Linked DNA regions of Homo sapiens. The protein of the gene in region 2 interacts with the protein of the main gene of each other region in a biochemical or structural test. Each region holds a gene or a part of one and is shown on either strand. Other genes may lie near its edges.

Region 1 (3,500 bases), on a different chromosome or scaffold from region 2:
AAAAACAGTTTCCTAATCTACACCTGCAATCTACACTTCTGAGCTTGTCACTGTAGTCTCTTAGTTGGTGACTCCACTGTCTTACTTGGTTAGCTTGGCTGGATACTCCTCCTCCTCTACATTTTTCTCAAATCTATTTCAATCAATTTCTGACTCTTCTACTGCTATTCTGGTTCATGAACCCCCCCCATTACTCCCACCACTAACCCATCTCTTGCTTGAGTAACAGCTTTTTTATTGAGACCTCTGATCCTGTTCCTTTGAAATCCATCTTCCTCTGAAGCAACCAGTGCCATGTAGTTTTTGTTTTTCCTTTCTGGTTGCACCTTTTTAAAAGATTAACTGTTCAAAAGCTTTATTCCTGCCACTCCCTGTAAGTTAGCGGACTTTCATTTCAGGCCATCTTGAGTGAACACACTCAACTCTACTCTCATGACTTCAAATATCAAAACTATGGATTAATGACCCCAAATCCGTATCTCCACCCAAAGGGTGTATCCAAAGGCCTTACATACATTTTTTTTTTTTTGAGACAGAGTCTCACTCTGTTGCCCAGGGTGGAGTAGAGTGGCACAATCTCAGCTCACAGCAACCTCCACCTCCCAGGTTCAAGCTATTCTCCTGCCTCTGCCTCCCAAGTAGCTGGGATTACGGGCATCCACGACCACGCCCAGCTAATTTTTGTATTTTTAGTAGAGACAGGGCTTTGCCATGTTGGCCAGGCTGGTCTCAAACTCCTGACCTCAGGTGATCTGCCTGCCTCAGCCTCACGAAGTGCTGGGATTACAGACGTGAGCCACCATGCCTGGTCACATTACATACATCTGAATGTTGACTTCAGCAGCTTGAAATCAACGTCTTTAATTTTATGTCCTCCATTCCTTATTCAGTTCGATCAGTACATTATCTATTGCCTGTATCAGCAGGGGAGGCGGGGGTGGTCCAATCTTTTGGCTTCCCTAGTCCACACTGGACAAAAAGAATTGTCTTGGACCACAAGTAAAATATACTAACACTAGCAACAGCTGATGAGCTTTAAAACAAATTAAAAAATAAAAAAAAAAAATAAATCGCAAAAGAATCTCATAATGTTTTAGAAAATTCACAAATCTGTGTTGAGCCTCATTCATAGCCATCCTAAGCCACATGCAGCCCACAGGTTGCACAGCTTGGCTTATCTTTTTTTTTTTTTTTTTTTTTTTGAGACGGAGTCTCGCTCTGTCGCCCAGGCTGGAGTGCAGTGGCATGATCTCGGCTCACTGCAAGCTCCACCTCCCAGATTCACACCATTCTCCTGCCTCAGCCTCCCGAGTAGCTGGGACTACAGGCACCCGCCACCACACCCGGCTAATTTTTTGTATTGTTAGTAGAGACAGGGGTTCACTGTGTTAGCCAGGATGGTCTCAATCTCCTGACCTGGTGATCCACTCGCCTCGGCCTCCCAAAGTGCTGGGATTACAGGTGTAAGCCACCGCACCCGGCCTATCATTATTTGAGACAGGGTCTCACTCTGTCACCCAGGCTGAAGCGCAGTAGCATGATCTCAGGTAACTGCAACCTCTACCTCCCGAGCTCAAGCAATCCTCCCACTTTGGCCTCCTAAGTAGCTGGGACTATAGGCGGGTGCCACCAAGCCAGGCTAATTTTTGTGTTTTTTGTAGAGACAGTGCTTCACCATGCTGCTCGGGCTGGTCTTAAACTGGGTTCAAGCAATATACCCGCCTTGGCTTCTCCCAGTGCTGGGATTACAGGCGTGAGCCACAGTGTCTGGCCTATTGCCTATATGATTGATACCACTTCCTAATCTATCTTCCGGTCTCCAAATTTTTTTGTTTTCAAATCCATTATCTAAAAAGCCAGTGACTCATCAAAAATACAAACTTGACTGTATCACTCCTCTGCTGAAAATGATGGTTCATCATTGAAAGGAGGACATCCAAGTTCTTTAATACATATGTGAGCTTCCTTTGTTCATGTGTAACAAATTACTTCCTGACTCAAAGTTTTGTTATTCCCCTTCAACTTAAAATTAATTTTGCTTTCCTGCATACATCAAGGGCTTTCTTTTTGTAGGTGAGCAGGGGAACCAGATGGGAAGACAAAAATATTTCATAATGAAGATTCTAGGCCGGGCATGGTGGCTCACGCCTGTAATCCCAGCACTTTGGAAGGCCAAGGCGGATAGATCACTTGATGTCAGGAGTCCAAGACCAGCCTGGCCAACATGGCGAAACCCTGTCTCTACTAAAAATACAAAAAATTAGTTGGGTGTGGTGGCATGCACCTGTAATTCCAGCTACTTGAGAGGCTGAGGCACAAGAATTGCATGCATCTGGGAGATGGAGGTCTCAGTGAGCCAAGATTGTGCCACTGCACTCCAGCCTGGGTGACACAGTGAGACTCTGTCTCAAAAAAAAAAAAAAAAAGGAATGAAGATTCTAAAATCTTACTCATAGGGAAATATCCAGTAGGAATCAGAAATATGGCATGAGGGCTCAGGCAAAAGGTCTAGGTTAGTAACTCAGAGCTGTACATTACAGACACAAAACTGCATATTCATGAATAATGCATTGAAAACAGTGTAATTCCCAGGATATCCATGTTATCATACATCTGTACCATATAATTATATAATATTACAAAACCATCATCCACTTCTGGATGAGTTAAAGATTCAATATGAATCTTCACTAATTCTTCCAACTTTGAACAGAGAAACAGAAAAAACTCAAAACTAACTCCATGTTTCTGGCTGCCTAGATTAGAATTAGTGATTTGGTAATTTACAATCATTGCAACAGCTACAGCCTTTTCATTAACGACTATAGTCTACCCCCTAAAGAAACCTTCCCTGTAAATGACCACTAGCTATCCTGATTTCTATTTGGAGAAGTAATATTTTACTCTGTACAAAGGTTTGAGAAATATTACCCCATTCTAAGATCTTTCAGAATCTGTATTAGTCAACTTTGAACAAGAAATTTCTGATAAAACTGTACAAAAAGAGGAGGTCGTCATATATACCAGACTAGTTAACACATAACCTATCCTAACTGAACATAAAGATCTAGCTGCAAACAAGACATTTTTACCTCAAGATAGTTTAGAAAAATTAATATGTATGAGAAATGCTCATCCTGAAACATCTAAAACAAGGATTCTTAGAATAAATTAAACTGTTCAACAGAAGTAATAAGCAAAATTACTCCATAAAGCCAAAAACATACCTGGTTTCTCAGACATACAGGACACACACTTATTGTCTTCTGCATTATTAGAAACACAGCATACTGAACACTCCCAAGATCCAATGGGCCTTTTGAATTTATCTCCAAATCCTAAGGTACCAGTGGTTACAGTGCAGCTGGAAGATGAAGCAGTCATAGTCTCAGCACTTTCCGAAACCACTGTCAATGTAAGGGCTCGCTTCACACAAGTTCCAGGTTTCGGTGTTTCACAGGCTACACATTTTATTGCTTCAGGTTTATTTTGCACTAAAC
Region 2 (3,500 bases):
AAGCAAGGAAAATGACTAACGTGCATTTATTTTATATTGTGGAAAAAAAGAAATAGTGCAAGTAAAATAAGAGAAGTGAGAGAGATAGAAAGAAAAAGAGAATAAACTTTTTTTTTTTCATAAGGCAGTAGATGAGTGTTAAAAGGAGACTGGGGGTTAAAAACAAACTAGTGGACCAGATAGTAAAATGTTCAATAAGAAAGCAGGTGCTAAAAGTAATTTTTTTAATGACAAAGTTTACATGCTAACATTAAAATTGAAAATTCACAGTGAATATATAATACTTAGGAATACTTATGCACCAAATAACATAGGAACCACCTTTGTAATGCCAAAAGGTATGGAGACATTGAAGCACAGTAATAATAGGAGATTTAATACATGGCAAGTCTCAGTACAAGGCAAATCCAGTGGTACAATAAAGAGACCTATACCGAAAATGTAAACAACACAATAAGATACATTGTGTGTGTGTATACACACATAGGCATACATACACACACATAAATCTACACCTTGGAGATAAAGAATATACCACCTTGTCAAAAGCTGATGGCACGTTAACAAAACGTGATCATAATTACCTCACAGTGAAGGCCTCGCTAATTTCCATAAAGTAGAAATATTACAACCAACCCTCTGCAATCACGATGCAACAAAAGTAGAACTTACTAACACAAACTGAAAGCACAAAGGCTCTTCTACCTGGAAAAAATGTTCAGTCTTCTATTAAGCAAATGTCGAGATAAAGACGAGATACCAACTGAAGTTACAGAAATATTTAAGAAGAGTGATTATAAGAGCTTACATATGAGACTCTGTAGAAGATAGTTAAAGCAGTGATTGGAAGCAGATTCAGAGCGCTAAATACTCTCATCAATGAAAATGAACGAATAAAATTAGACAAATTAAAGCACTGCCTCAAAAATCTAATAAAAGAACAACCCGGGAAACCAAAAGAAACACAAATAAAGAAATAACATAAAAGCAGAAATTGCCGGGCTTGGTGGCTCACACCTGTAATCCAACCACTTTGAGAGGCTGAGGCGGGAGGATCACTTGAGGCCAGGCGTTTGAGACCAGCCTGGGCAACATAAGGAGACCCTGCCTCTACAGTAATAATAATAATAATAATGATTCTTTAGCAGGGCGTGATGGAACATGCCTGTAGTCCTACTTACTGAGGAGGCGGAGGTGGGAAGATTGCTTGAGCCCAGGAGCTCAAGGCTGCAGTGAGCTGTGATCACAACGCTGCACTCCAGACTGAGTGATCCAGGGAGATTCGGTCATTAAAATGAATGAATGAATGAATGAATGAATGAATACATAAGCAGATGTTAATAAGATACATAGTAGAAAAACAATGTGTGTATATTTATTAAATCAAAATCCTGGTTTTTTTTTTAATGGACAAACTCACTAGGCAGATTAATGAAGGAAGAAAGGGAGAGAGCACAAATATACAAAATAATAAACGACAAATGATAATCATTTAAACAGAAAAAATTAGGTTGCTTTTCAAACCTGTGTATAAAGAAATTAAAAATACACATGAAATAAATAATTTCCTAGGAAAATACAGATTATCAAGATTTTTACTCTAATGCTGGAAGGCTTAACTTGGCCAATTTTTACAGAAAAAAATGGAAAAAGTTATTAAGGAATAACTCCCAAGAAGCACCTGGCTCAGATGCTATTACAGGTCAATTCTACTAAACCTTCAAAGATCAGATAGTACCAGAGTGCCAATGCTCTATAAATTATTCAACAGCATTATAAAGGAAATTTTCATAACTTCCTTTATGAAGCAAGTGTGACATGGATAGATAAGTGTAGATGCAAAAATGCTAGATAAAATATTAGCAAACAACATATTTAAAAAATCATAATATACTTTGGCAAAGTGGGATTTATCCCATCAATACAGATTGGCTCAATATTAGAAAGTACCTTGATATCATCCACCATATTAATATACTTAAAGACAAATATCATATGGTTATCACCACAGATGTTGAAAAAGCCTTTGGAAAAATTCAACACCTCTTTATGTTAAAAAATAGAAAAGCCTTAAGAAAATAGGCACCACAGGATGCTTTCTTAACATGATAAAACATATATACCTAAGTCCTAATGCTAGTAACTTATTTAATGGGGTGGGGGGGCACTCGAAGCTTTCCCTTGGGATCAGGAACAAGGAAAGCATGCCTACTACCTCACACCTATTCAATCTTGCATTACAAGTATTAGTCAACTGAGCAGAGAAATAGATCATTTTCCTAGGAATGAATAAGAAGAACTAAAAAGCACAGCAAAGGGAACAATCAACAAAATGAAATGGCAACTTACACATTGAGAGCAAATACTTGCAAAACATATGTATGAATAAGGGGTTAGCATCCAAATTTTGTAAGGAAATCATACAACTCCATAGCAGAAAAACAATCAAATTTAAACAACGGGCAAAGGACCTGAATAGACATTTCTCCAAAGAAGACATACACACTGACTAACAGGTGTATGAAAAAGTGCTCAACATCATTAATCATCAGGAAAATGCAGATAAAAGCTACTATGAGGCAACACCATACAACCATTAGGATAGCTATTATCAAAAAGCCAAGAGATGGCAAACATTGCCGAGTGTGTGGAGAAAAGGGAACCCTTGTACACTGTTGATGGGAATGTAGATAGGGACAATCATTATGGAAAACAGTATGGAGGTACCTAAAGAAATAGATTTTTTTTTTCTGTTTTAGTAAATAAAATGGTAGTTCTACATTTTTCTATTTTAGAAAAAAATATGGTAGTGAAAAAGAGAACTATCATATGACCCAGCAACTGCTTTTCTGGGTATCTACTTAAAGGAAATAAAATAACCACCTTTTGAAAGTAGCTGATCTTTGAAAAGTATCTGAACTCCCATGTTCACTGCAGCATTAATCACAATAGCCAAGATATGGAAACAACCTAGGTGTCCATCAAGGGACAGATGGATACAGAAAATGTGTTGTATGTATACACTTTAAAAAGGAGATCTTGCCATTTGCCAAAACATGGATGAATCTGGAGGACATTATGCTATAACAATGAAATAATAGTGAAATAATCCAGATACAGAAAGAGAAATATTGCATGATCTCACTTATATGTGGAATCTTAAAAAAATAAAAGTAAAACAAAACTCAAATATACAGAGATACAGAATAAAGCAGTGGTTATCAGGGTCGGGGTGGGGAGGAGGGGATGGGAGGAGGAAAGCGGGAGATGTAGGTCAGAGGATGCAAAGTAGCAGATATGTAGGATGAAAGAGACTAGAGATCTAGTGCACAACATGCTGGAATACAGTTTGTACAATTGTACTATTAAATATGATGCGGGATTTCTGCTAAATGAATAGATTTTAGCGCCTACTGCTACCAAAACCAAAAATGGGTCACTATGTGACATAATGGGTTATGTTAATTTGTTCCACTATAGTAACTATTTTACTATCCATA

What was found.
Region 1: the proteins of NXF2 (region 2) and NUP153 form a complex in vitro, tested with the Homo sapiens proteins (one study listed by BioGRID).

Annotation. Positions count from the first base shown.
Region 1 is NC_000006.12:17,633,926-17,637,425, forward strand, and holds part of NUP153 (nuclear pore complex protein Nup153), read right to left. Parts: coding exon 3,228-3,500; intron 1-3,227. UniProt on the Homo sapiens protein: Component of the nuclear pore complex (NPC), a complex required for the trafficking across the nuclear envelope. Functions as a scaffolding element in the nuclear phase of the NPC essential for normal nucleocytoplasmic transport of proteins and mRNAs.
Region 2 is NC_000023.11:102,253,667-102,257,166, reverse strand, and holds part of NXF2 (nuclear RNA export factor 2), read right to left. Parts: intron 1-3,500. UniProt on the Homo sapiens protein: Involved in the export of mRNA from the nucleus to the cytoplasm.